Linked DNA regions of Homo sapiens: all the other regions are linked to region 6. Evidence: fine-mapped expression QTL. A gene starts in region 6. Each other region holds a variant in brackets. All regions are shown on one strand. Distances are between the middles of the regions.

The links. PIP is the estimated chance that this variant, and not a neighbour inherited with it, causes the effect. A credible set is the group of variants that fine-mapping cannot tell apart.
Region 1: its variant is the best candidate, but not a certain one, in a credible set for the expression of LLGL2 in lymphoblastoid cells (GENCORD, PIP 0.63).
Region 2: its variant is the best candidate, but not a certain one, in a credible set for the expression of LLGL2 in whole blood (TOPMed, PIP 0.89).
Region 3: its variant is the best candidate, but not a certain one, in a credible set for the expression of LLGL2 in tibial artery (GTEx, PIP 0.62).
Region 4: its variant is the best candidate, but not a certain one, in a credible set for the expression of LLGL2 in monocytes (BLUEPRINT, PIP 0.54).
Region 5: its variant is the best candidate, but not a certain one, in a credible set for the expression of LLGL2 in monocytes after LPS (Quach 2016, PIP 0.74).
Region 7: its variant is the best candidate, but not a certain one, in a credible set for the expression of LLGL2 in whole blood (INTERVAL, PIP 0.80).

Annotation. Positions count from the first base shown.
Region 1 is chr17:75,575,469-75,579,520 of GRCh38, forward strand. No RefSeq gene overlaps it. Among named protein-coding and RNA genes, the nearest start is that of MYO15B, 10 kb to the right of the region's middle. The variant G/C (reference allele first, on the strand shown) is at 1,544.
Region 2 is chr17:75,563,712-75,567,774 of GRCh38, forward strand. LLGL2 (LLGL scribble cell polarity complex component 2) reads left to right here. Exons shown (of 26, transcript NM_001031803.2): 9 at 41-95; 10 at 642-796. Among named protein-coding and RNA genes, the nearest start is that of MYO15B, 22 kb to the right of the region's middle. RefSeq lists an enhancer at 3,178-3,327. The variant A/G (reference allele first, on the strand shown) is at 1,698.
Region 3 is chr17:75,552,621-75,556,683 of GRCh38, forward strand. It overlaps LLGL2 (LLGL scribble cell polarity complex component 2), which reads left to right. Exons shown (of 26, transcript NM_001031803.2): 3 at 3,426-3,523. Among named protein-coding and RNA genes, the nearest start is that of LLGL2, 29 kb to the left of the region's middle. RefSeq lists an enhancer at 1-389. The variant C/T (reference allele first, on the strand shown) is at 1,744.
Region 4 is chr17:75,397,306-75,401,368 of GRCh38, forward strand. All of the region lies in intron 1 of GRB2 (growth factor receptor bound protein 2), which reads right to left. Among named protein-coding and RNA genes, the nearest start is that of GRB2, 6.3 kb to the right of the region's middle. The variant A/AT (reference allele first, on the strand shown) is at 2,377.
Region 5 is chr17:75,570,092-75,574,148 of GRCh38, forward strand. LLGL2 (LLGL scribble cell polarity complex component 2) reads left to right here. Exons shown (of 26, transcript NM_001031803.2): 15 at 1-164; 16 at 257-407; 17 at 859-1,009; 18 at 1,576-1,692; 19 at 1,807-1,973; 20 at 2,923-3,187; 21 at 3,390-3,540; 22 at 3,861-3,889. Among named protein-coding and RNA genes, the nearest start is that of MYO15B, 16 kb to the right of the region's middle. RefSeq lists enhancers at 1,039-1,168, 1,279-1,448. The variant C/CA (reference allele first, on the strand shown) is at 2,269.
Region 6 is chr17:75,523,826-75,527,888 of GRCh38, forward strand. It overlaps LLGL2 (LLGL scribble cell polarity complex component 2), which reads left to right and starts at 1,872. Exons shown (of 26, transcript NM_001031803.2): 1 at 1,872-2,000. TSEN54 (tRNA splicing endonuclease subunit 54) reads left to right here. Exons shown (of 11, transcript NM_207346.3): 11 at 437-910. The coding sequence ends at 587. RefSeq lists silencers at 1,238-1,337, 1,358-2,077, 1,394-1,578.
Region 7 is chr17:75,328,180-75,332,242 of GRCh38, forward strand. All of the region lies in intron 3 of GRB2 (growth factor receptor bound protein 2), which reads right to left. Among named protein-coding and RNA genes, the nearest start is that of SLC25A19, 41 kb to the left of the region's middle. The variant TCAAA/T (reference allele first, on the strand shown) is at 2,200.

The DNA of each region.
Region 1 (4,052 bases), 52 kb after region 6:
TGGCCTTTCCCTACTGTCAGAAGAAGGACACCCACAATATCTCAGACCTGATGGCTTCCTCCAGACACCAGGGAGGACTGTGGGGTGCTGCTGAAGCGGGGCTGGTACCCAAGGAGAAAGGCCTTCCCCAGGGGAGGGGCTGGGTTATTTAGATTGGACATGGGCTGGATCTTTATTGACTCGTCTTCGTTGAGCACCTACTGTATGGCCAGTGCGTGGGGTTCTCCGGTGTCTGAGACAACTGTGGTTCCTGCCACAGTTGACACTGGTGAGAAATGCACCTGGGGGGTGACCTGAGAGAGAACCAGGAATTGCCAGAGAGTGTGGTAAGCAAGCAGATTGTTCCAGACAGAGGACAAGAGGGCTCACCGCCACTCCAGGAACTCGCTTGCCGTGGGAGGCAGTGGAGAGCGGAAGGTGGCTGGCAGGCAGGGCCGAAAGTGAGGCCAGACTAGGGAGGCCCAGTGAGGGCCAGGTGTGACAGGCGCCTGCTCTGCGTGAGCGAGGAAAGGCCCATCCAGAGGAGCTGGGTACAGGTGTTCCATCTGGCCATGTCCACCTCGAGATGGCCACTTGACCGTCCCTTGTTTCCCCAGGGGAGGGTGCAGAAAGACTTCTGAGATGAGCACCTCGAGAACTATGAGGAATGTAGGGGAGCAGTTCCCCAAAGGGAGAGGAACACCATGCTAGAAGAAGCAGGGAAGGGATGATGCCTGGCAGAGACCAGCCACAGGGGTGGGGGATACCTGGTGAGACACCTGTATCAGTCCCTTCCCATACTGCCATAAAGAACATATGCCATAAAGGTGGCTGGGCGCAGTGGCTCACGCCTGTAATCCCAACACTTTGGGAGGCTGAGGTGGGGCAGATTACTTGAAGTCAGGAGTTCAAAACGAGCCTGGTCAACATGGTGAAACCCTGTCTCTACTAAAAATGCAAAAATTAGCTGGGCGTGGTGGCGCGCGCCTGTAGTCCCAGCACTTTGGGAGGCCAAGGCAGACAGATCACTGGAGGTCAGGAGTTCGAGACCAGCCTGGCCAACATGGTCAAACCCTGTTTCTTCTAAAAATACAAAAATTAGCCGGGCGTGGTGGCGGGCATCTGTAACCCCAGCTACTCAGGAGGCTGAGGTGGGAGAATCACAAACCTGGGAGGCAGAGGTTGCAGTGAGCCAAGATCGCACCACTGCACTCCAGACCGGGCAACAGAACGGGACTCCATCTCAAAAAAAAAAAAGATAATGGTGATGATGCAAGTACCAGTGAATCAGAAAAAAACGGCAGAACCTGCACTTCTGTGGCACAGAGGAGCCTGGTGGCCACAGCACAGGTCTTGCTGATGAAATTGAACAAGAAGTCGAAAACACACAGCCCTGAAAATATCAGGAAGACTCCGAACATGAACTTATTTCCTTGCTGATTAGTGCTGAACTTTGAGCTTTGCTGTAAGTATGCTGTGCTTTGAAGTATTAGCTAATGTCGGTGTGCATATTTCAGTTTAAGGAAACATTCTCGGCCGGGCACGGTGGCTCACGCCTGTAATC[G/C]CAGCACTTTGGGAGGCCAAGGCGGGCGGATCACGAAGTCAGGAGATCGAGACCATCCTGGCTAACATGGTGAAACCCCATCTCTACTAAAAATACAAAAAATTAGCCAGGCATAGTGGCGGGCGCCTGTAGTCCCAGCTACTCAGGAGGCTGAGGCAGGACAGTGGGGTGAACCCAGGAGGCAGAGCTTGCAGTGAGCCGAGATCATGCCACCCCACTCCAGCCTGGGCGACAGAGTGAGACTCTGTCTCAAAAAAAAAAAAAAAAAAAGAAAAATATTCCCACTGGGAGTGTGAGATGAACAACAATTTGTATTGATGGGTGTGCAAGATGGAAGGACGTGGCATCTTCCTCTCTAGAAAGTGAACTGGAGGGGCCGGGAGCGGTGGCTCATGCCTGTAATCCCAGCACTTTGGGAGGCCGAGACAGGCGGATCACAAGGTCAGGAGATCAAGACTAGCCTGGACAACATGGTGAAACCCCGTCTCTACTAAAAATACAAAAATTAGCTAGGTGTGGTGGCGTGTGCCTGTAATTCCAGCCACTCGGGAGGCTGAGGCAGGAGAATCTCTTGAATCCGGGAGGCGGAGGCTGCAGTGAGCCGAGATCATGCCACTCCATTCCAGCCTGGGGACAGAGCAAGACTCCGTCTCAAAAAAAAAAAAAAAATGAACTGGAGGAAGCTGGGATCCCCACAGCCATCCAGGGCAAGGCGACGGTGGTAGGGAAATAGAGGCATTGAGGGGTTGGGTTGACAAGGATGGCTGCCAGATGGGAGGAGATGAGTGAGCGTGAGGGCTACCTGTTGCCTCCAAGGGCCAGGGAGGTATACAGCAGGCAACTGGATTTGTGGTCAGGAGATTTATTTTATTTGTTTTTTAGAGACAGGGTGTCACTCTGTCACCTAGACTGGAGTACAGTGGCATGAGATCATGGCTCACTGCAACCTTGACCTCCGAGGCTCAAGCAATCCTCCAGCCTCAGTCATCCAAAGTGCTAGGATTACAGTCATAAGCCACTGAGCCTGGCCACGGAAATTGATTTATTTTAGAGACAGAGTCTTGCTCTGTTGCCCAGGCTGGAGTGCAGTGGTGTGATCATAGCTCACTGTAGCCTGAACTCTTGGGTTGGAGCAAACTTGTAGCTGGGACCACAGGTGGGCGCCACCATGCTCAGCTAATTATTATTTTTTTTCAAGACAGCCTCATTCTGTCGCCCAGGCCAGAGTGCAGTGGCATGATCTCGGCACACTGCAATCACCGCCTCCTAGGTTCAAGCAATTCTCCTGCCTCAGCCTCCCGAGTAGCTAGGATTACAGGCGTTAGCCACCACGCCCAGCTCATTTTTGTATTTTTAGTAGAGACAGGGTTTCACCATGTTGGCCAAGCTGGACTCAAACTCCTGACCTTGTGATCCGCCTGCCTCGGCCTCCCAAAGTGCTGGGATTACAGGCGTGAGCCACCGCGCCTGTCCTACTTTTTTATTTTTAAATTTTTTGTAGAGACAGGGACTCCCTATATTGCCCCAGGCTGGTCTCAAACTCCTGGTCTCAAAGGATACTCCTGCCTCAGCCTCCCAAAGTGCTGGGATCATAGGCATGAGCTGCCACACCCTGCCAGTCTGCAGATTGAGATGTGAGGGTCTTGGGCATTCAAAGTGGTGGAGACCTGGTGTTCATTTAGCATTTGAGGCCAGGCAGATCCAACCCTGTACACTGGCTTTCACGTGACTGGCTGTGTGACCTTGGGTACATGACCTCACTCCCATACCTTGGTTTACTTATCTGTAAAGTGAAGGATAATAATAGGACTTACCTCAGAGGGTTGTAAAGGATTAAATGAGAGCCTGTAAAATCACACAGCACCTGATTCCTAGTAAACACCCAACCCTAGGAGGTGAAAGTTACTGTGGATGGTGGGTGAGGCCAGGAGAGAAGGAGATGGCTCCAGAGGGAGGGAGTGTGGAAGGAAGTCCAGAGAGGGCGCGGCACACAGCCCCAGGGAGGAGCTCACTATACACTGGTGAGCGAAGCAGGCAAAGGAAGTCAGTGGGAAAGTGGGAAGCAGAGGGGAGAGCCAGGCTCGGGGGTGTGGCCTGTCTCCCTGCATGTCAAGATTAGCCAAGCTGTTCCCTGAAGGTTGTTCAAGGTCATAGAGCCAGGAGGGTGGAGCACTGCAGCTGGGATGGGGGACCAAGGCTGTCTGGTTCCAAAGCTGATTCCAGCAGAAGCGCTGCGGAGCTCCACAGTGTGGGTTCAGCAGAAAAGTGGGTATTAAAGGCCAGAGGGCCTGGGCTTGGTCCTCAAGTCCATATTTAGTGGTTATGTGTCCTTAAGCTACTGGGTTTTTTTTTTTAGACAGTCTCGCTCTGTCGCCCAGGCTGGAGTGCAGTGGCAGTGATTTTGGCTCCCTGCCACCTACGTCTCCCGGGTTCAAGCGATTCTCCTGCCTCAGCCTTCTGAGTAGCTGGGACTACAGGTGCATGCCACCATGCCTAGCTAATTTTTGTA
Region 2 (4,063 bases), 40 kb after region 6:
GAGTTTGAGGATCCGTTCAAGCCGATTCCTTTCCTTTCAGGTCCCTTTCCTTGCAAAGCGATTACCAGAATCCTCTGGCTGACCACTAGGCAGGGGTAGGTATCCATGCTGGTCCTCTTTCCTCTCCAGAGCCTTCCTGGAGGGCTAGAAAGGTCACTTAGGCCTCTGCCTGGGAAGTTGGTGCCAGTGAACACTCTCAGGTCCCGTGTTGGGGTCTTGGACACCAGGGAGGGGAGACAGGGTAGACGCTATTCACGTCTCTCAGCGGCCCAATTCCTGCCAAGTTCATTCTTGCTCCTTTCTTCCACCTTCCCAGAGAGACGGTACTGAGCAGCAGGTCTTAAACTCCTTTAGTTGGCAGCCCTGTTTCTTCAGACAAAATCACTCTGGGTGATGTTCAAACAGAATTGGTGGGGGCACCCAGCATGAGGCAGGAGTGGCTGCTGAGACTCAGAGCCCCCAGCCTGGATGCCCTCACCTTACCTCCAAGTCCTCCTGGGCTGTAGCAGTTGGAAGGAGATGGGGTCCAGTCTCCCCTGCTCCTGGGGACCTTGACTGAGTGGTGACTTTGATTGCCGGCCTGTGGCTGTTGAGGCTGTGCCAGGAGCCCCAGCCCACTGCCGCTCCTCTGTGCCTGCCAGGTTGCCCTTCACCATCTTCCAGGGTGGCATGCCACGGGCCAGCTACGGGGACCGCCACTGCATCTCAGTGATCCACGATGGCCAGCAGACGGCCTTCGACTTCACCTCCCGTGTCATCGGCTTCACTGTCCTCACAGAGGCAGACCCTGCAGCCAGTAGGAGAGCTTCGGGAGTGGGTGCCCAGGGTTAGGTGTGGGAGGCATGGGGCAGGACCATCAGTAAAGACAGGGCCAGGTGCAGTGGCTCCTGCCTGTAACCCCAGTGCTGTGGGAGGCCAAGGTGGTAGGATCGCTTGAACCCAGGAGTTCAAGTCCAGCCTGGACAACGTAGGGAGACCCTTGTCTCTACAAAAAATAAAAAAATTAGCCAGGTGTTGTGGCACGTACCTGTAGTCCTAGCTACTCAGGAGGCTGAGGTGGGAGGATCACTTGAGCCTGGGAGGTGGAGGTTGCAGCGAACCAGGATCATGCTACTGTACTCAGCCTGGGTGACATAGCCAGACTGTGTCTCAAAAAAAAAAAAAAAAAGGGCTCTGCACAGATGTTCCTAAGCCTACCACTGTCCTGAGTCCCTTAGCCTCACTGCACCCCAAGGTGCAGTGTCATCAAGCCCTACAGCTCCTTTCTCTGCCTCCCTGCCACCCTCCCCAGCTAGAGACCCAGCCCAGCCACACCTCCTGTCTGCCCCGGGCTCTCTGCCCTTTCCAGACTGTAATGGGACTTAGCCCACAGGGGGCTGATCTGTACTGTTGGATTTAACACCCACCCCGCTGAGGCAAGAGGGTCCTGGCTTAGAGATGGCAAAGCCCGCCTTCTGGGCAGGGCAGAAGGTGGCTGTGCAGCCTCCTGGAGCTCCAGCAGGACCGGCAGAGCCCTGAGTCAGCCTCGTAAATTGTGTGACAGGCAAGACCAGAAAGGGCTGATGTTGAAACCTGGAGAGGAGCCCTGCAGGAGCTCTCCAGGAGGGAGGGCCCTCTCCTAATGATGCTGGCCTGAAAGGGCCTGAGGCCGAAAGGTGAGGGGGCGGGGCTGTTCAGGACACCTGGTCTGTGTACTC[A/G]CGGCCTCTATCTACCCTGTTCAGGGGAACCCCAAACCTGCTTTTCTTTCTTTCTCAGCCTCTCCTCCCTCCTCACACCCTGGATGCTGAGAGCAGGGCCCAGCTCTGCTCTTTCCACAACATTTGGGCCATGTTGGCACAGAGCGGGGGCCTCTTGGGCTATGGTGGCCACACTCCCCGGGCTAACTGAGTTACCTGATTCCCAGCGGAAAGGTCAGGAAGGGAGGGAAGAAACTTGCTGAGCTACAAATTCGAGACTGCTGGGGCTTTCTAGGACAGGCCACCTTCCTGCAATTGTCCCTCTGTGTCCCCAACTCCCCGCAGTCCCGCAGGCCAGGAGGTGGGTGCCTGATGAGCGGTGCTTCCCTCAGATGATATGTGGGCACCCTGAAGCTCTCACGTAATGGTTCTGCTGTGCCGGGTTGTGACCCAGCTGTCCTTGGTAGGCTCTCCTGTTTAATGAGCAACTGCTATATGCCAGGCCCTGTTCTAGAAACAGATGAGGCCCCTGTTCCCATGGAACTTAGATCTGAGTATGTGGACAGAGTGAGTAGGTTGCCAGATAATGTCAGAGGTAAGAAAAAAGCCAGGCAGAGGACAGCAGTGCTGGTTTAGACAAGGGTTGGCAAGGCCTCCCTGATAAGGGGACGTATTTGCGCAGACACGGAAGCAGTCTGATGGAAGGCTTGCCCTGTAGGGACCTGGGGTGCAGACTGAGCTGGGAGGGCTCTTGGCTTGCTCCAATGAGGTAGGGGCGAAGAGAGGGCAGAATGGCCCCCGTGCTGGTCCAGATGTGGCCAGCGCCAGATCGTATAGAGCCGTGGAGGCACGGTAAGGACTTGGGGTTTGAGGGAGATGAGGGCCCTGAGCAGGGGTGCCATGATCTAGCCTCTGCTCCAGAAGGATCTGTCTGGCTGCCATGTGGGGGACACGGAGTGGAGCAAAGACGGGAGCCCAGTGAGAGTCGAGGGAGAGGTGACCTCAGCTTGGGCTGCGGTGCAGGCCATGGGACTGGCAGGAGGTGGCTGGGGTTACGCTGTCTTTTCTAACATTCAGCATTGGCTCAGGGGCCAGGTCAGGGCTCACAGACTGTTGCTATAAAGGGCTGGGTGGCTTTCTTCCCCACAGCTACTCAGCCTAATGCCATTGCAGAGCACATGTAGCCATGGACAACACAAGGGGCGTATCCGTGTTCCAGGACAGCCATATTGACAGGAATAGGCAGGAGGCCAGATTTGGTCCTCAGGCTGTAATTTCTTGGCCCCTTGTCTAGGGAGAGGTAAACGAGGGGAGGAGAGATCAGTCAAGGATGACGTGAGGGTTTGCTGGGAGCACCAGGAATCCTGGAGAAGGTAGTGGCAAGAGGGTGCAGCAAGCTCAGCTGGGCGGGGATCAAGTCTGAGGACTTAATGTCTCCTCTGATCTCCAGACCCATAAGGGAGATGCTGAGTAGACAACTGGGGCTTATGGGTCTGGAGTTCAGAGGAGAGATCGGGAAGGTGTCCATTTGGAGTCATCCACGCAGAGATGTGTGAAGGCTGCTCAATGATTTTGAGGTTTAAAGAAAAAAAGAGATGTGAAACCAGGGGCCCTGATGAGGCTGCCCAGGTGGTAAGGAAGACAGAAGAGAAGCCATGGGACAGCTGAGCCCGGGCACCCTCAAGCCTTGGAGGCATGAAGTTTGGTGGGGATCTGGCAAAGAACACCTGGGAGCAGCCAGCGGGCAGCAGACCCCAGAGTAGCAGGGAAGACAAGCACTTCAAAGAGGCAGCGTCAGCCAGGGGCAGTGGCTCAGCTGTAATCCTAGCACTTTGGGAGGCCAAGGATGGCAGATCACCTGAGGTTAGGGGTTCGAGACTAGCCTGGCCAACATGGTGAAACCCTGTCTCTACTAAAAATAAAAAATTAGCCAGGCATTGGTGGTATGTGCCTGTAATCCCAGCTACTCGAGAGGCTGAGGCAGGAGAATCTCTTGAACCCGGGAGGCAGAGGTTGCAGTGAGCCGAGATCATGCCATTGCACTCCAGCCTGGGCAACAAGAGCGAAACTCCGTCTCAAAAAATAAAAAAGAAAAACAAAAATTAGCCAGGCGTGGTGGTGAGTGCCTGTAATCCCAGCTACTTGGGAAGCTGAGGCAGGAGAATCGCTTGAACCCGGGAGGCGGAGGTTGCAGTGAGCTGAGATCGCACCACTACACTCCAGCCTGGGTGACAGAGCAAGACTCCATCTCAAAAAAAAAAGAGAAAAAAAAGACTGGGCACAGTGGCTCATGCCTGTAATCCCAGCATTTTGGGAGGCCAAGGTGGGAAGATCACTTGAGCCCAGGAGTTCAACACCAGCCTGAGCAACATGGCGAAACCCTGTCT
Region 3 (4,063 bases), 29 kb after region 6:
CACATCTCAGTTCAGACATTAAATCTTTTTTGGAAGTACTAGATCTGTATTTAGAATTTGGATGATTTACAGTGGAAAAAGGGAATTCGAAGCGTGGCCTGCCTGAGTCCAGCCCCTGTTCTTCTAGAACCCGAGTTGTTCCAGACATACTTGAAGGGTTTCCAAGAACTGACTTAATCCTCATTGGTGACATGAGCCATACTGCAAGTGCTTGGTGGCCCCATGGGGCTCATGGCTACCGTTCTGGGCAGCTCGGAGCATGGGGCCTGCTCCTGGCCAGGCCATTGGGCTCCTGTAGGGCATTTCCACCAGAGTCCTCCAAATTCCAGAGGCTGTTCCCTGAGCTGCCTCTGCTGCTGGGAAAGTGCTGCTGTCCTGGGAGACGGCTCCGGCTGCTGACTTCCTGAGGCCCCAGCAACCTGGGGCTGGCTGAGGTCTGGTGGGGCCCCTGGGGGAGCTTGTCCTGCACATCCTATCCCACTGTCTACTCCCCTTTTCCTGGGAAATGTTTACATTCCAGACACTCAGCTATCTCTATCCAGGGCTTCTCCAGGCTCTGCATTTTTCGCATAGCTGAACAGGGACCTGGGCTGGCCTGGGGGCCGCTGCTGGGCCCTATCTGTCCCCCTGGCTATCCCATTTAGGTATGACCATTTGCAGGGCAGGCCCTGTTCCTAGCAAAGGCCAGGCCTGAGGCACCCCCCGTCTCCCCCGACCTTTTTGTCTCCAGGCATCCCCCAAAATAGGCACTTGTTGGAGCTCTCCTCCCTGCCTGACCCCAGCATGGGATTCCTTGTGAGAGCCATTGGACTAGACTGACTGATGGGGGAGGCAGGTAGCAATTGGGTTTGCTAAGCTATCATTGCTAGATCTCATCAGGGACTTCTCCTTTTCTGCTGCTTTGAGGCCTGGCAGGGCTGCAAAGTAGGAAAGCCCAGGGCCTAAGGAGGCTGCCTCATTGTTGGGACCTTTTTCTGCAAGTCAGAGTCTCTGTGGTTGTTTTTTAAGTCTTTAAAGCAATCAGTTGACATAGCATCGCTTTGTGCTGTTCTCACCTAGCTCTGCAGGGTCACTATCCCCCGGGGTGGGAGGCGGGGGTCAGATTGGGGTAACTGATTAAGAAACTGAACTAAAAACCTTCCTGAAGATGGTTTATCACTCTAAATTTGTAGTGGGTTTATGTTCATACCTTTCTTAACCCACAATTCTATCCCTGGGACATCTGCCCCAGGAAATACTCAAGTGGTGCAGACAAAGATAGGAGTCCAAGAATGCCATCGACATGGTTGTTGGATTGCAAACCCTCTAGCAACAAAGTAAATACTCAACAATAAACCTCTGGTGAATTAGGATATCTACAGGTAAAGAATATTCTTTAGATGTTTTAAAAGTCATTTTAGGCCGGGTATGATGGCTCACACCTGTAATCCCAACACTTTGAGAGGCCAAGGCGGGCAGATCACTTGAGGTCAAGAGTTCAAGACCAGCCTGGCCAACATGGTGAAAGCCCATCTCTACTGAAAATACAAAAATTAGCTGGGCATGGTGGTGGGTGCCTGTAATCCTAGCTCCTGGGGAGACTGAGGCAGGAGAATCACTTGAACCTGGGAGGCAGAGTTTGCAGCGAGCCAAGATCGCACCATTGCACTCCAGGCTGGGTGACAAGAGCAAAACTCCGTCTCAAAAAAAAAAAAAAAAAAGCCATTTTAGGCAGCTTGCAGTGACTCACGCCTGTAATCCCAG[C/T]GCTTTGGGAGGCCGAGGCAGGAGGATCGCTTGAGTCTAGAAGGTTAAGACCAGGCTGGACAACATGACGAGTACCTGTCTCTACCAAAAATTAAAAAGTAGCCGGGTGTGGCAGGTGTGGTGGTGCATGCCTGTAGTCCCAGCTACTTGGGAGGCTGAGGTGGAAGGATCACTTGAGCCTGGGAGGCCAAGGCTACAGTGAACCGAAATCATGCCGTAGCACCCAGCCTGGGCAACAGAGTGAGACCCTCAAAAAAGAAAAATTAAAAATTTTTGTCATGCCTGTAATCCCAGCACTTTGGGAGGCCAAGATGGGCGGATCGAGACCATCCTGGCTAACACAGTGAAACCCCGTCTCTACTAAAAATACAAAAAATTAGCCGGGCGTGGTGGCGGGCGCCTGTAGTCCCAGCTACTTGGGAGGCTTAGGCAGGAGAATGGCGTGAACCTGGGAGGCGGAGCTTATAGTGAGCTGAGATCACACCACTGCACTCCAGCCTGGGCGACAGCGCAAGACTCCGTCTCAAAAAAAAAAAAAAATTTTTGGCTGGGTGCGGGTGGCTCACGCTTGTAATCCTAGCACTTTGGGAGGCTGAGGTGGACAGATCATGAGGTCAGGAGATAGAGACACGGTGAAACCTGTCTCTACTAAAAATACAAAAAATTAGCCAGGCATGGTGGTGGGCACCTGTAGTACCAGCTACTCGGAAGGCTGAGGCAGGAGAATGGCATGAACCCGGGAGGCGGAGCTTGCAGTGAGCCGAGATCGCACCACTGCACTCCAGCCTGGGCAACAGAGCGAGATTCCATCTCAAAAAAAAAAAAAATAGACCTGCAAACATTCACAAGTGCAGAAGACTCGAAGGATGTACACTTAGGTTCTAGCAAGGTTACTTCTGGTTGTGGGAGTTTGGGTAATTTTTGTTCTTTTTTTTTTTTTTTTTGAGACGGAGTCTCGCTCTGTCGCCCAGGCTGCTCTGCCTGCCGGGTTCGCACCATTCTCCTGCCTCAGCCTCAGTTTTTGTTCTTAAACATCTTTATACCTCCCAGGTTTTTCACAGTGTGTGTGTGTATTCTGTAATAAATGAAAAAAACACGTATGTGCAACGACACTCCAGGAATTCCCTTTCTGGGAAGATGGTTGGAATTTGGTGACAGTAAGAGTCTGTGAGACCCAGCTGACTGGGGCCTGGAGGGACCTGGAAGAGCCCAGAGCAGGGCAGGGCCTCCGCGGTACTCTAGGCCCCTGGGTGAGCCCGGAGCTGCGGTGCAACCAAGATTTTCTCCCGAGAGACCGGTGTCTCCATTGTTCCAAACTCCCCCTACTTTCCCCACCCCACACCCATAAGGCCCCCATGCCACTGAGGAGGGCTGGGTCCGTCACCCAGGGTGCACGTGGTGGAGGCACCGAGTCAGTTCCTGGAAAGCATTGAGAGGCTGGTATGGTGTCGGGGAAGATCAGCTCGCAGGGGTGGCCATGAGGCCAAGGGCAGAGTCACAAAGGGACAGGGGGTGGGGCCTGGTAAATATGGGTTAGGCTCCAACACTCAGGTGTCTGGGAGGAACCGGAAAGGTACCGAAGCCCTGCTTCCTGCTGGGTCGTCTGGTGCTGCAGCTGCAGCAGCCATGGTGGCGCGAAGGGGACAGGTCTGCAGGCCCACCCCACGTGCTTCTCGTTGCAGACGGTGGAGCATGGCTTCCCGCACCAGCCCAGCGCCCTCGGCTACAGCCCGTCCCTGCGCATCCTGGCCATCGGCACCCGTTCTGGAGCCATCAAGCTGTATCCTCCGTCCCCTCGCTCCCACTCGGGCAGGGCCTTGGGGTGGGTGAGATTTGGGGAGGGACATCTTTTCCTTCCTTGCCCGTGGGCTGTTGGGATAAAATGAGGGACTTTCCTGATTTCCAGTTTTGGACATGATTTTATTCCAAAATGGGGCAGGTATGGTTGATGGTGGAGCAGGCACCTGGGCATGAGTGCATCCCTGGTGGGATGCGACCCTGTCCTTTGCAGGAGGACAGTGAGGTTTGAAATGGACTGAGGAGATACAGGCTTATTTTGTCTCCTGTGTCCTTTCAGGACCCTTCATGTGGTCTGCTCCCTTTACTCAGTTTCCCCTCTCACCTATTCCTGGAGGTTTCAGGAATCCCCCAGTCCCGGGCAGGGGGTGAGGCTGCTGGGGGGCTCAGAGACCTGTTTTGCAGGGGTTGTATTGGTGGATCCAGAGGGAAGGACCTGACGCCCATGTCTCAGCCAGTGATCATTCAGTGAGTGGCTGGCTGGTGCGCCAGTAGCAAGGCCTAGGCCCTTCTGTGCCCCTGC
Region 4 (4,063 bases), 130 kb before region 6:
ACACAATGTATAATGATTTTAACAGAGTAGATGTTGCTGTTCACTTCCCAAGAAAATGGGGTATAGTGTACTTAACACTGAAGCCTAATGAGAGTAACCTCGAAACTGTTACCAGCCCATCCCAAGCAGTGAATTTTAAGAAAGGTAAGTACAGCTTTAATCATTCATTTCAAACAATGTCTACTGTATCCAAAAAAACTACTATCCTAAAGGTATTTGCAAGATTTTTTTTCTTTCTTCCATTTAACTCTCTTCTTCCCAAAATTCACAGAAAATAAAATACATGACAACAGTCCAGTATAGCTTAGTGTTGAATCTTCATGGTCTCTAGAGGCAGGCCCCTCACACTTACAGCTACAGTTGTGGGCAAAGTTGTGAAACAAGCTCCAGTTTTCTCATCTGTAAAATGAGAATATCTACCTTATAAGATCCACTGAGGATTAAATTAGACAACATATATAACATACATTAAGTGCTCTGGATAGAGCCCGACATGTAATAATCACTCAAAATTTATTTATTTATTTATTTATTTATTTATTTATTTATTTTTTGAGACAGCATCTAGCTCTGTCGCCCAGGCTGGACTGCAGTGTCACGATCTCAGGTCACTGCAACCTCCGCCTCCTAGGATCAAGCAATTCTCCTGCCTCGACCTCCCAAGTAGCTGGGACTACAGGTGCGCGCCACCAAGCCTGGCTAACTTTTGCATTTTTAGTAGAGATGGGGTTTCGCCATGTTGGCCAGGCTGGTCTCAAACTCCCACCTCAGCCTCCCAAAGTGCTGGGATTACAGGCATGAGCCACTGCACCCAGCCTTCAAAAGAAATTTTAAATGTTACTCTATTTAAAACATATGAAAAGAAATGCAAATTAAAACAATCAGAGTTTTCATATACTAATTGGCAAATTTTAAAAATATTTATAAAATCCAATCTGCAATACTTTGAGTAAACACACTTTTATTTATTTATTTATTTTTCAGAAAGGGTCTCACTCTGTAGCAAAGGCTGGAGGGCAGTGGCGTGATCTTGGTTTACTGCAACCTCCGCCTCCTGGGCTCAAGGGATCCTCTCACCTCAGCCTCCTTAGTGGGGACTACAGGCACCAGCCACCATAGCCTACTCATTTTTTTTTGTAGAGATGGGGTCTCCCTATGCTGCCCAGGCTGGTCTCAAACTCCTAAGCTCAACAGATCTGCCTGCCTTGGCCTCCCAAAGTGCTGGGATTACAGGTATGAGCCACCGCACCAGGCACAAAGACTTTTTACCCTACCCGGTGTCCACTGACTCAACATTTTGAGAAGTTACTAACTGACAATGTGGCTTGGTGTTACATTATAATAATAAAATCACCACAGAACCCACACTACAGCAAGGAATTAATGAGCTCAGCTCAATCTTTTTGGTGAGTTCTTTGGTAATCTATTGACAACTTTTATTTATTTTTATTTATTTTTTGGAGACAGAGTCTTGCTCTATCCCTCAGGCTGGAGTGCAGTGGCGTGATCTCCGCTCACTGCAACCTCCACCTCCTGGGTTCAAGCGATTCTCCTGCCTCAGCCTCCCAAGTAGCTGGGATTACAGGTGCCTGTAACCATGACCAGCTGATTTTTCTATTTTTAATAGAGACAGGATTTCGCCATGTTGCCCAGGATGGTCTTGAACTCCCGACCTCAGGTGATCCGCCCACTTTGCCCTCCCAAAGTGCTGGGATTACAGGCGTGAGCCACTGCGCCCAGCCTATTTACTTTTATTATTTGAGACAGAGTCTCGCTCTATTGCCCAGGCTGAAGTGCAGTGGAGCAATCATGGTTCACTTCAGCCTCAAACTCCTTGGCTCAAGCCATCCTCCTGCCTTAGCCTCCCAAGTAGCTGGGACTACAGGTGCACACCACCATGCCTGGCTAATTTTTGTGTGTGTGTGTGTGTGGTGACCAGGACTCACCATGTTGCCCAAGCTGATCTCAAACTCCTGGACTCACGTGATCCTCCCCATCTCAGCCTTTCCAAGTGCTGGGATTACAGGGGTGAGCCACCACACCTGGCCTTGACAATCTTTTCTTTTTTTTTTTTTTTTTTGAGATGGAGTCTCGCTTTGTCACCCAGGCTGGAATGCAGTGGCACGATCTTGGCTCACCACAACCTCTGTCTCCTGGATTCAAGCCATTCTCCTGCCTCAGCCTCCCAAGTAGCTGGGATTACATGCCCCCACCACCACGACTGACTAACTTTTGTATTTTTAGTAGAGGCAGGGTTTCACCATGTTGGTCAGGCTGGTCTTGAACTCCTGACCTCGTGATCCACCCGCCTTGGCCTCCCAAAGTGCTGGGATTACAGGCCGTGAGCCACCGCGCCCGACCAACAATTATTTATTT[A/AT]TTTTTTTGAGACAGAGTCTCGCTCTGTCGCCCAGGCTGGTGTAGTGACGCAATCTTGGCTCGCTGCAAGCTCCGTCTCCCAGGTTCATGCCATTCTCCTGCCTCAGCCTCCCGAGTGGCTGGGACTATAGGTGCCCACCACCACACCCGGCTTATTTTTTTGTATTTTTAGTAGAGACATGGTTTCACCATGTTAGCCAGGATGGTCTCGATCTCCTGACCTCGTGATCCGCCTGCCTCAGCCTCCCAAAGTGCTGGGATTACAGGCATGAGCCACCGTGCCCGGCCCTGACCGACAATTTTGAAATATTAATACATACTCTTTTTTTTTTTGAGACAGGGTCTTGCTCTGTCACCCAGTCTGGAGTGCAGTGGGTGCCATCTTGGCTCACTGCAGCCTTGACCTCCCAGGCTCAGGCCATCCTCCCGCCTCAGCTTCCCAAGTAGCTGGGACTACAGGTGTGTGCCACCACACCTGGCTAATTTTTGTAAATACATACTCCTTTTTTTGAGATGGAGTCTTGCTCTGTCACCCAGGCTGAAGTGCAATGGCACGATCTCAGCTCACTGCAATCTCCGCCTCCTGAGTTCCAGCAATTCCCCTGCCTCAGCCTCCCAAGTAACTGGGACTATAGGCGTGCACCACCATGCCTGGCTAATTTTTGTACTGTTAGTAGAGATGGGCTTTCACTAGGTTGGCCAGGCTGGTCTCAAACTCCTGACTTCAGGCAATCCACCAGCCTTGGCCTCCCAAAGTGCTGGGATTACATGCATACCACCATACCCAGCCTCATGCTCCTTTTTTCTTTCTGAGACAGAGTCTCGCTCTGTTGCCCAGGCTGGAATGCAGTGGTGTGATCTCATCTCACTGTAACCTCCACCTCCTGCGTTCAAGCGATTCTCCTTGCCTCAGCCTCCCAAGTAGCTGGGATTCCAGGCGTGTCACCACCACCTAATTTTTGAATTTTCTTTTTTTGTGTGTTTGTGTGTGTTTTTAATGTTTGTATTTTCAAATAAAGACGAGGTTTCACCATGTTGGCCAGGCTGGTCTCCAACCTCAAGTGATCCGCCCACCTCGGCCTCCCAAAGTTCCAGGGTGACAGGCGTGAGCTACTGTGCCTGACCAATACATACTCTTGACCAAGCAATTCCACTTCCCAGATTTATCTCACTGAAACAATGAGACAAAATACAATGTGCAACATACACATATACACCCACACCCTTGATCAATATCCATGAGCTTGTGTATGGAGTATCTACATAAATACCAGGATATATCAATTTTTTTTTTTTTTTGAGACGGAGTCTTGCTCTGTCGCCCAGGCTAGAGTGCAGTGGTATGATCTCTGCTCAAAGCAACCTCCACCTCCCGGGTTCAAGCCATTCTCCTCAAATTTTTAAAGCTGCAGAAAAATTATAGTTTATCCTATTTCTGTAAGGCAAAATAATACATCAGTATGTGCTTAAAAAAAAAGGCTAGGCCGGGCGCAGTGGCTCACGCCTGTAATCCCAGCACTTTGGGAGGCCGAGGCGGGTGGATCACGAGGTCAGGAGATCGAGACCATCCTGGCTAACAAGGTGAAACCCCGTCTCTACTAAAAATACAAAAAATTAGCCGGGCGCGGTGGCGGGCGCCTGTAGTCCCAGCTACTCGGGAGGCTGAGGCAGGAGAATGGCGTGAACC
Region 5 (4,057 bases), 46 kb after region 6:
GTGCGCTTTGAGCCTGGCTTTCAGCCCTTCGTGTTGGTGCAGTGTCAGCCCCCGGCTGTGGTCACCTCCTTGGCCCTGCACTCTGAGTGGCGGCTCGTGGCCTTCGGCACCAGCCATGGCTTTGGCCTCTTTGACCACCAGCAGCGGCGGCAGGTCTTTGTTAAGTGAGCAGGGGCGGCTGGGTCCCGGGGCTGGGAGTGGGGCCCGCGAGGACTCCCAGGACCTAGCAGCACTGACAGCCTGCCATCCCCCCAAGGTGCACACTGCACCCCAGTGACCAGCTGGCCTTGGAGGGCCCACTCTCCCGCGTCAAGTCCCTCAAGAAGTCCTTGCGTCAGTCATTCCGCCGGATGCGTCGGAGCCGGGTGTCCAGCCGGAAGCGGCACCCGGCTGGCCCCCCAGGAGAGGTGAGGCCTGAGGTGAGGCTGCGGCCGGCCACGCACCCAGGTTCGGCTCAGAGCAGCCAGCAGGGGGGCCACACGGCCCCTGCTCCCCAGGCTTGCTAGGCTACAAACAAGATTCAGGGTCCAGGTCGCATTGTGTGACCTCAGACAGGTCACGCTGCTTCTCTCTGCCTCAGCTTCCTGAGCAGAAAGGCAGTAACTGTAATGCTTATCCTAGAAGTAATCCCCAGTAAACGTTAGTGATTTCCTTTTTCTCTCTACAACATGCTGGGGGCCCAGGCAGGCTCCCCCAAGGGCACCTCCCTCTTGGACAAGGGTCCCTCTAGACGCAGGCCTGGCAGGTGGCTGGCATGGCTGTGGCCTGCCTTCCGATGCAAGGATCAGCACTGAGCGAAGCACTGTTCCTGGGGAGGGGAGTCCAGAGCTGACCCTTAGGCTGGCCCACCCCTTGCAGGCACAGGAGGGGAGTGCCAAGGCTGAGCGGCCAGGCCTCCAGAACATGGAGCTGGCGCCTGTGCAGCGCAAGATCGAGGCTCGCTCGGCAGAGGACTCCTTCACAGGCTTCGTCCGGACCCTGTACTTTGCTGACACCTACCTGAAGGACAGTGAGTGGCCAGCCTGGGGTTGGGGGGCAGGGGGTAGTGGGCAGCAGACACCCCCTGACCTGGGGGCATGCCGGGGGCTGCTGCCTGCCTGGCTGGTAGGAGCTAAGAGGTTTCCCCTTGTGAGCAGGGGCAGACTGCAGCCCCTGCCTGCTTACTCCCCTCCCCTGCCTCAGCCTCTGAGTCAGCTTCCCTTGGCTTTATATCCAGGCCGTAGCACCCTTTAGAAGCATGGCCTCAGACCCATCACTTAGCCTTTCAGGGCCTCAGCTTGCTTCTCTGTAAATGAGGAAGTGACAGCTTCCTCCTAGAGCAGCTGTGACGATCGGGGACAGCAGAGCCTGCTGGTCTCCAGATGACGTGTCTCTCCCTGGCTGGTTCTCCCCTGCTGTATCACAGCAAGGGCTGAGCTGACCTGGGATTGGGGTCTTCTATGTTGGGGCCTGTGTGGTTGTCAGAGAGCCTTCCAGCCTCTCCCAGGAGGGAAAACCTGGGAGTAAACCCTGGTTGCCCAGCTCCACCCGACTCCCACGCTAAGGGTCAGACACCCAAACATGGCTTCTCGGCAGGCTCCCGGCACTGCCCCTCGCTGTGGGCTGGCACCAATGGGGGCACCATCTATGCCTTCTCCCTGCGTGTGCCTCCCGCCGAGCGGAGAATGGATGAGCCTGTGCGGGCAGAGCAGGGTGAGTGCTGGGCAGGGAGAGCAGAGGGTGCTCGGGCTGCCTGGGCTGGGTCCAGGGAGTGGCTCCAGCCCTGCCACCCCCTCACCAGCCCCAACACCCACCTCCTCCCCCTAGCCAAGGAGATCCAGCTGATGCACCGGGCGCCGGTGGTGGGCATCCTGGTGCTCGACGGACACAGCGTACCCCTTCCCGAGCCCCTCGAAGTGGCCCATGATCTGTCGAAGAGCCCTGACATGCAGGGAAGCCACCAGCTGCTCGTCGTATCAGAGGAGCAGTTCAAGGTGCCACACGGGCAGCGGCGGGTCTCCCTGGGACTCCCCGGGACATCCAGGAGGCTCGGACCTTGGGCAAAAATGATGGCTGGGACTCAGTCTTGTTTGCAGTTGGTGTCTGAGGGGCTGCAGAAGTACAGGAAATAAGTGAGGGGGGAGTCTCGTGTGAGGACACTGAGGCAGGACAGGGGGCCAGGCGCGGTGACTCATGCCTGTAATGCCAGCACTTTGGGAGGCCAGATCACAAGGGCAGGAGTTCGAGATCAGCCTGGCCAATATGGTGAAACCCTGACTACTAAAAATA[C/CA]AAAAAAAAATAGCCCGGCATGGGCCAGGCGCGGTGGCTCATGCCTGTAATCCCAGCACTTTGGGAGGCCGAGGCGGGCAGATCACAAGGTCAGGAGATCGAGACCATCCTGGCTAACACGGTGAAACCCCGTCTCTACAAACAAATGCAAAAAAATTAGTTAGGCGTGGTGGCGGGCACCTGTAGTCCCAGCTACTCAGGAGGCTGAGGCAGGAGAATGGCGTGAACCCAGGAGGCGGAGCTTGCAGTGAGCCGAGATTGTGCCACTGCCCTCCAGCCTGGGCGACAGAGCGAGATTCCGTCTCAAAAAAAAAAAAAAAAACCAGCATGGTGGTGGACGCCTGTAATCCCAGCTCTACTCGGGAGGCTGAGGCAGAAGAATTGCCTGAGGCGGAGGTTGCAGTGAGCCGAGATCACACCACTGTACTCCAGCCTGGGCGACAGAGCAAGACTCCATCTCGGAGGAAAAAAAAAAAAATCCAGATAGGGAAGTCGGTGACCTCGGCATCCTCCCAGGCCATGTCTGTGCATCTGAGAGCCAAGGGTTTGTCAGGACACCGGGAGGCATGTGGGGAGGGGAGGGCCCAGCAGCAGCAGCACAGGGCAGGAGAACTGGTTTGGCCATGGGCATGAACAACCACCCCACGCCCCCAGGTGTTCACGCTGCCCAAGGTGAGTGCCAAGCTGAAGTTGAAGCTGACGGCCCTGGAGGGCTCAAGAGTGCGGCGGGTCAGCGTGGCCCACTTCGGCAGTCGTCGAGCCGAGGACTACGGGGAGCACCACCTGGCAGTCCTTACCAACCTGGGCGACATCCAGGTGGTCTCGCTGCCCCTGCTCAAGCCCCAGGTGCGCTACAGCTGCATCCGCCGGGAGGACGTCAGTGGCATCGCCTCCTGCGTCTTCACCAAATATGGCCAAGGTGTTTGAGCCGGGCTGGGTGGGTGTCGGGGCCCCGGGCACTGCACGGACGGGAAGGGTGGCCAGGGGTGTTGTGGCCACGGCCAGACTGGATGGGCCTTAAGCGGAGAACTGCGAGGGAGCACTAGCCCCTACTCCCCCAGGTGGGGAGGCAGCCTTGGCAGCCGCCAGGCCAGGCCGCTAGCATTGCCCCCACTCCCCAGGCTTCTACCTGATCTCACCCTCGGAGTTTGAGCGCTTCTCTCTCTCCACCAAGTGGCTGGTGGAGCCCCGGTGTCTGGTGGATTCAGCAGAAACCAAGAACCACCGCCCTGGTAACGGTGCGGGCCCCAAGAAGGCCCCGAGCCGAGCCAGGTGAGTGAAAGGGCCAGAGGCCTCTCCCGCCCCTCCCGCCCCTCCCTGCCCTCTCTGAGATACCGAGGCTCCCACTGCTGCCTGGCTGGAGGCACCTCCCCACGAGCTCAGCCCACCCTCCCAGGCTCCGGCTCTCCTTGCCTCTTTGCGTGCCCCTTGCCCCTGTGCAAGCTGGCAGTCCAGGGCAGGACTCAGTTTACCTCCCAGGCTCTCCGGCTCAGGACAGGCTGCGCCATTGACTTGTTCTTCATGGGACCAGGGCTCTCAGAGCCGGGCAGGGAGCCCGGGGGCCCTGGTCCTCACTGTCTCTTCCCCCACAGGAACTCAGGGACTCAGAGTGATGGCGAGGGTAAGACAGGCCTCCTGGGCTCATGCACACCTGGGCCACACCCGGCCCAGACCTGGGGCTGGACGGGAGGGAAGGGTCCCGAGTGAGCAGGTAGTGTTTGGGCTGGGAATAGAGACGGCATTCCTTCCAGCCCTGGGCCCTGGGCTTCCACATCCTGACCTCAGTAAG
Region 6 (4,063 bases):
TCCTGTGAACCAAGTGGGACTCCTCTGTACTCCCCTGGCCAGCGTGCCAATCTCTGAGAGGAACAGGAGGTCCAGAGAGGCTAAGTGACCTACACAAGGCCACACAGCCAGTTTGTGCTGCCCTACTCTGAGCTCCTCGTTGCTGGCATTTTAGGGTAGTCTTTCTCCAATGCCATTTTAGTCTAGGACTCACCCAGCAGAAGGGATGTGGATTGTGGGGATTTACAGGCTAAGAGTGGTGAGCACCTTGCTCTTCCTAGCACCTCCCCAACCAGTGCTCTGGGGCGCTCTTCATCAGAGCCCTGTGTTTTGGAGACAGAACTCATGGGTCAGAATTCTTGCACCCCAACTCCTTCCGTAGAATCTCTTCTCTGGGAGCCCTAGAGCTTAGGAGTGGGCTATGGCTGGGTCTCACTCTAACCCTTTGTCCCTGCAGATTTGATGAGCCTGTCCCAGACCTCTGCAGCCTCAAGCGGTTGTCTTACCAGAGTGGGGATGTCCCTCTGATCTTTGCCCTGGTGGATCATGGTGACATCTCCTTCTACAGCTTCAGGGACTTCACGTTGCCCCAGGATGTGGGGCACTGACCTCACAGCTCTGCAGAGGATGGAGCTTGCTCCGGGGGACCGGGACTGTCTGTTCTCAGGGACCATCTCGGCTGCCTCCTGTACCCAGACTCTAACCTGTAGCTTCAGAGGCCAGTCTGGGCCTTGGCCCTGGGTGTCTGATACTCACAGAGTGAAACTGTGACCCTCTCCCTTCCCTGCTGCCTTGCAGTGACCCCTCTGGAACTCAGGACTCGATTTTAAGGACCCAGGAGGTGGGGCAGAAGAGAGGACTGTGTGCCTTTAACGAGAGGGTGCCTGCTTCGTGCTATAAAGCCAAAGCCATTAAAAATAGATTTCTTTTCTGCTGTTTCTGTATGTACTGGGTAAACCCCTCTCGCCCCCGTCCCGTTGTCAGTGGAACTGCCCCCAGCCCCTCACCCCTGCTTTGCCCACTCAAGGAGATCCGCTTCCTCTGGTGCGGGATCTAAGAGTGAGAGAAGCCCGCGGGATAGCAGGAACGCGACCTCGAACCTTTTGAGCCTTTCCCGGGCCTGCGTCGGAGGGGATGGGACGTCGCAGGCTTCCCGAAGGGAGGAGGGAGGACGGCGCGCCATCGGCCCTTCCCTGGGCGCAGCGGGGTGCGGGTGGCGAGAGGCGCCACCTGCAGCTGGGCGGTGGAGCGCGCTGCAGCCCCGGCCTCCGCGCCCTTTCCGCTCCCGCCTCTCGTCGCTCCAACCTCCTCCCTCGCTTGTGCTAAAAATTCCACCCGCTGTTGCAGACCCTCCGGCCGACACGGAGGAGGTGGGCGCCCCCCCGCACCCCCCCCCGAGGAAAGGCGTCTCGCCGCGACGCCCCGGTCCCTACACCATCCCTCTCGTGGGGCTGGAAACCCGGCCCTGCGTCCCCCGGTCACCCTCTCTGGGCTGGGCTCTGGCAGAGGAGCTGGCCCGGATCCGCCCCTCCCTCGGCAGCTCCCGGGAGTTGGAGGGACGGCTCCCCTGGAGTCTGGGAGGCGGCCCGGGACCGCAGGCGTTCCGGGAACTATTTCCGCTTGCGGGAGGCGGCGGGACACTGGGCGCGGCGCGCCGTTCTGCGTCCAGGTGCGCGCAGGTGAGGCCGGGGCGGGCCTGCGGAACCCCGAGGCCGTTCGCGAGGCCCCGCCCCGCGCTTCCCGGGGCCGCGGATTGGCAGGAGCGCAGCCCCCACCCCCGAGGGTGCCCCCGCCCCTGCGGCGCCGAGCTGGGGGGCGGGCCGGGGGCGGGGCGCTGGGCCCCGGCAGGCTCGCCCTTTATGTAAATAGCGCGGCTCCGCCCCAGGCTCGCCGCGCCGGAGGTGAGCAGGAAGGAGACGGCCGCCCAGCAGCCCGTGGGCAGGCGCGGCGGAGCGAGCGGGGCCGGCGGCGGGCGCCGAGGGACGCCGAGGCCTCGGGCGGGGGCTGGCCCGGGGTTCCAGGTGAGATGCGTGCCGGACTCGCCCAGCCGGGCCCGCCCCCTCGGGGCTTCCACCTGGGGCGGGGAGGCCAGGGAGGCCCAGGACCCCTGGGCTGTCGGGCCAGGGCGGGAGGGCTGCGCCCAGGTCCGCGCGCCTCGCCCCTGTCCGCGTCGCTGTGCTGGCCTGGAAGAGAGACACCTGTAGAAAGTTCTGCGGGAAACTTCTCTGCCTGATCTGCGCGATGACTGAAACTTGGGCTTGGGTTTGCACAATAATGTTGGCTTAGGAGAGCAGGAGAACAGGTGCCCCGGCCGGCTGGGTGCGGGGGGCACCGCGGGCAGAGACGGAGTCCCCGGGCCCACGTGCAGGCGCCAGGCCAGCGGGGTTGGCGACGCGCGTCTGCGGTGACCCCCTCCCCACGGGCGGCGGCCGGAGCGCGGTGCCCCGGCGGCTTAGCCCCTGCCCCTGCCATCTGGGCTGTGTCCCTGCCGGCCCTTTGTGCCTCCTAATCCCCGGACGCAGGAAGCCCGCGGGAGGGACTTCGGTCTCCGGCCTTTCTCCAGCTGGGGCGGCTTTGGACACCTTCACATGACAGTGCGGAGACCCAGTCTGCCCTCCATGCTGACGGGCGGGGTTTGCGCTGTGGGATTTGGCGAGAAGTGGAAAATTCTATCTTGCCAAAGAAAGTGTGTCTTAGTTTGTTCCGGCTGGACGATTGGTGGACACGCTGGGCCTTGGCTGTGGGGAGAACTGACCTAACCAGGGGAGCTGTAGAGTGGCGCTTTGAGGCTCTCACCTGAACAGGTGAGCTTTGAGTGAGGAGGGCGCCCCTTCCCCTGGGGATCCGTATGCGACTGCCGGCAGCCTTAACCTGGGCTCCAGGGACCCCCTGCTGGAGTTTGTAGTTCAAGAGAACCTTGAGTTCTCTTGAAGGGGCTACAGAGAGGATTCTGAGCAGGGAGCGGGCAGGGAGGGAATGGGTGTGTCAAGGTGACAAGGAAACGCTGGTAGGAAGAGCAGAGCTGCCACAGAAGAGCTGTGGCCCAGCCCGGGGGAAGCCAAGGTCAGAAGTGGCAGTTGAGGCTGGGTGCATTGGCTCACAGCTGTAATCCCAGCACTTTGGGAAGCCAAGGCAGGAGGATCGCCTGAGCCCAGGAGTTTGAGACCAGCCTGGGCAACATAGTGAGACCTCGTCTCTGCAAATAATAAAAAAAGTTAGCCAGGCATGGTGGCGTGCACCTGTAGTCCCAGCTACTCAGGAGCCTGAGGTGGGAGGATTGCCTGAGCCCAGGAGGTGGAGGTTGCAGTGAGTCATGATGGCGCCACCACACTCCAGCCTGGGGACAGAGTGAGACCCTGTCTCAAAAAAAAAAAAAAAAAGTGGCATTTGAGGAAAACTGTCTGGGTCTGTGTGAGCAGAGGCACAAGGAGAACTGTGCGAGAGATGTCTCAGCTTTATTTTATGAACTGGGATTTGGGGTTTAGTTTTCTTAGGCGATCTTCCCACAGTGCTAGCTGTGGCAGACAGAACTCAAACTCAGCTCTTAAGCTTCTAATCAGAGTTCACTCCTTTCCTCTGAAGTTAGACTGGGCCCATCTTTGTGGGGGCTCCTGGACAGGGTTTCCGGGGTCCAGGGTCATTTGGCATCCCCATTCTTCCTTGAGGCAAGGGAGTTTCCCCTTTGGTGTCAGATTAATATGCTTTTAATTATATTAAAATGACACTACATTCATAAATAAGAAATAAAATAGAAAAAAGTAACTTTTTTCTCTTTTTTTTTCTTTTTTTTAAACTAAGTTGACCAAATTCTTTTTTTCTTTAATAATATGTTTTTTAATTTGTAGAGATGGGATCTCACCATATGTTGCCCAGGCTGGTCTCAAACTCCTGGACTCAAGTGACCCTCACACTTCAGCCTCCCAAAGCGTTGGGATTACAGGTGTAAGCCACTGTGCCCAGCTGTTAGTAACTTTTTTTTTTTCTTTTTTTGAGGCAGAGTCTTGCTCTGTCACCCAGGCTGGAGTGCAGTGGTGCAATCACTGGGAGATGGAGGCTCACTGCAGACTCGACCTCCCAGGCTCAA
Region 7 (4,063 bases), 200 kb before region 6:
TGGGCACAGTGGTGGGCACCTGTAATCCCAGCTACTCGGGAGGCTGAGGCAGGAGAATCACTTGAACCTGGGAGGCAGAGGTTGTAGTGAGCCGAGACTGTGCCACCGCACTCCAGCCTGGGCGAAAGAGTGAGACTCTGTCTCAAAAAAATATATAAATAAATAAAATAAAAAAGGAGGCTGGGTGCGGTGGCTCAATGCCTGTAATCGCAGCACTTTGGGAGGCCGAGGTGGGCGGATCATCTGAGGTCAGGAGTTCGAGACCAGCCTGGCCAACATGGAGAAACTCCATCTCTACTAAAAATACAAAATTAGCAAGGCGCGGTGGCGCATGCCTGTAATCCCAGCTACTCGGGAGGCTGAGGCAGGAGAATCGCTTGAATCTCCGGGAGGCAGAGGTTGCGGTGAGCCGAGATCGTGCCATTGCACTCCAGCCTGGGCAACAAGAGTGAAACTCCATCTCAAAAAAATTAAATAGGCCGGGTGTGGTGGCTCACGCCTGTAATCCCAGCACTTTGGGAGGCCGAGGCGGGCGGGTCACAAAGTCAGGAGATCGAGACCAACCTGGCTAACACGGTGAAACCCTGTCTTTACTAAAAATACAAAAAATTAGCCAGGCGTGGTGGCAGGTGCCTGTAGTCCCAGTTACTCAGGAGGCTGAGGCAGGAGAATGGAGTGAACCTGGGAGGCGGAGCTTGCAGTGAGCCGAGATCGCGCCACTGCACTCTAGCCTGGGCGACAAAGCGAGACTCGCTTTCAAAAAATAAATAAATAAATAAATAAATAAATAAATAAGGACACTTAACGGTATTGAGACCTTCTCAATCGGGGGGCCCCAATCAACGGTATTTAAACCTTCTCATATCGGGGGGCCCTGGGTTTCTAATATAAGTGTATGCAGCATGCATCTGACTGGGTACAGCAGTGAAAATCCACACATGGCCTCGGCTGGCTCTCCCCACACTGCCCCACACTCCCCACCACTGCCACTTCCAATAGCAATGGTGAGGGTGAAGATTCTCAATCAGCAAGGCTCTCTTTCCTCCTAGGCCCCCAAGATCTCTCCACTAGGGAGGTTTTTTCCCATTTGTAGGTATAAAATAATGAATATAAACTGAAATAGCCTAGATGTACATGAAGCAAACATAAAAAGTAAGATGCTTCCCTCAAACTCCCCAGAGGCAGCACGTGTTGGCGGTTCTAACACTTAGGTTTCCAGACCTTTCTGTCTGGTGTCACATAGACATGGCTGCTGTGTTTTCTTGCCCCCAGCTTAAAATTAACGCAATTTTATTTTCAATTAAAAAAAATAAATTGTAGTGAAGTACAAATTATAATGTTTAAAAAGTACTCTAACTGGAATTAAAACCAAAAACCAAAAAAACCACAACTCTGTTATAAGCACCCAGATCAAGAAATAAAAAATCTGGCACCAGGTGCAGTTGCTCACGCCTGTTAATTCCAGCACTTTGGGAGGCTAAGGTGGGAGGATTGCTTAAGCCCAGTAGATCAAGACCAGCCCGGGCAACACAGTGAGACCCTGTCTCTACGAAAAATAAAAAATTAGCCAGGCATAGTGGTGCACAGCTGTAGACGCAGCAACTTAGGAGACTAAGGTGGGAGGATAACTTGAGCCCAACCTGGATGACAGAGCAAGACCCTGTGAATAGCTGTCACTACTAAAACACTGAAATACCACCATTCTACATTTCTATAGCATTTTATATCATTTATAAATTTGACTTTTTAAAATGATGATATGTACATGTGACTACATGCTTACGGGTGAATTTTTTTTATTTTTTATTTTTTGAGACAGAGTCTTGCTTTGTTGAATAGGCTGGAGTGCAGTGGCGTGATCTTGGCTTGCTGCAAGCTCTAACAGGCAAATGTTTTGAAAGTCTTTAAAAAGATGGGCTTTGGGCCGGGTGTGGTGGCTCACACCTGTAATCCCAGCACTTTGGGAGGCCGAGGCGGGCGGATCAGGAGGTCAGGAGATTGAGACCATCCTGACCAACACAGTGAAACCCCATCTCTACTAAAAATACAAAAATTAGCCAGGCATGGTGGCACATGCCTGTAATCCCAGCTACTCAGGAGGTGGAGGCAGGAGAATCCCTTGAACCAGGGAGTTGGGGGTTGCAGTGAGCCGAGATCGCGCCACAGCACTCTAGCCTGGCGACAGAGCGAGACTCCATC[TCAAA/T]CAAACAAACAAACAAACAAACAAAAGATGGGCTTTGGCAGGGTGCGGTGGCTTACACCTGTAATCCCAGCACTTTAGGCCAAGAGCTCGAGATCAGCTTGGCCAACACAGTGAAACCCCATCTCTACTAAAAATACAACAATTCGACGGGAGTGGAGGCACGCGCCTGTAGTCCCAGCTACTCGGCAGGCTGAGGCACAAGAATCGCTTGAACCCAGCAGGCGGAGGTTGCAGTGAGCTGAGATAGCACCACTGCACTCCAGCCTGGGCAACAGAGCAGGATTCCGTCTCATAAAAACAACAAGAACAACAACAAACAAAAAACAAAAAAAAAAAAGGTGGGCTTATACAACAGAAATAGCAAGGGCGAGAGCTAAGGGGGTGAGGGGAGAAGGCTAATTTTCCAATATAATTCTTTACTACATCCCGTAGGCTCCCATCCATATGCATTTAGTGTGAAAAGCACATATTTGGATCCACCCCTCAAGCATATACAACTCATGCTGCAGCACTAATGCCAACAATCATTTTGTAGTCTAATTTGTTAACTTGAATGCTGCATTAGCTGACATGGTGCTACATTTTATGCTTCCCTCTTCCTCCATAACCCCTGCTCCCCACCCCCACAAACAAACAAACAAACAAACAAAAAAACAGGAGGTGGTAGGATGTGGAGGAGAAGGCCTGGTACTGACCCTGACCCTATACTCATGAACATCCAGCCACAGAGCAGCCCTATACAACAGCAACTACGTCTGCAAGGCCAAACACCTACATAGGCACAAGCATGGTCTTTGTTAGCAATATGGTAGACCTGAATAAATAAGGGTTTTTAAGTTGCTAGTTGCCTTTTCAGAGCTCAGAGTGGCTGAGCACTGCCCACCCTTTGGGCAGAGTCTGCAAATAACAACACAGCTGAGCCTGTGCTGGGTGCTTCTCCATCAATTCTTCTAAAGTTCTTCATAGTGGGGACAAAAGGTCAAGGCAAGGGAGTGACTGTCCCAGTCAGCCTGGCAGTAACTACAACTTTCCAAGGAAGGTAGCCTTTCCTATCTTTCCTCAACAGTCAGATTTAAATGCCTGTGTCACCCGAAACACTGAAGAAAAATAAGAATTTCGAGCCACAGGCATGTCATATAAGAAGTGTAGTATGATGTTCTGTTGAATTCCCTTTCAATCTGAAAATATGAAAACAAAAGGGAACTGAAGTCGATGTTGTGTTTGGATCTAATGAAGGAGCCAGCAAACAATAATGGCCTTCTGCCCAAATCTGCCCACAACCTAAGACTGTTTTTTAAATTTCTACTCGATTGTTAAAAGAAAATTTTTACAAGGAATATTTGACAGGATTGTATGCAGCCCACAAAGTCGAAATTACTTGCTATCTGGCTCTTCACAGAAAAAGTTTAGCCAACCCTTGACCTACAGTTTCTTTTGAGGACGACTGAAGGAAACAGAAGTACACAAATTATGTGGCTTATATGGGACCTGGGGAGGATGTGCTGTGATCCAACAGGCCCCTCCCACTCAAGATGCGACAAGCCACCTGAAAGTCTCCGCCACCAGCTGCTGTGAAAGCAAGTGGACAATGTCCAAGGGCATTCTAGTCTGAGCGTGGAAAGCCTCAGCTCCCCTGACACACTTGTAAGGCAAGCCAGCAACTGCTTCTGTGCTAGGAGCAGGGCCTGTGAATGAGGGGTGGGTGAGAACGGGAGGACAGTGGTCTGCAGGGGCTCTCAGGGGTCCACTATGTTGCGTTATTAATAAAATCGTGACAAGGGTAGCTTCTGAAAAAAAATTAAAAATATTCACTGCTCCCAGCAGCCTGGAGGACAGCATATTTTGTTCTCTTGTAAGTAG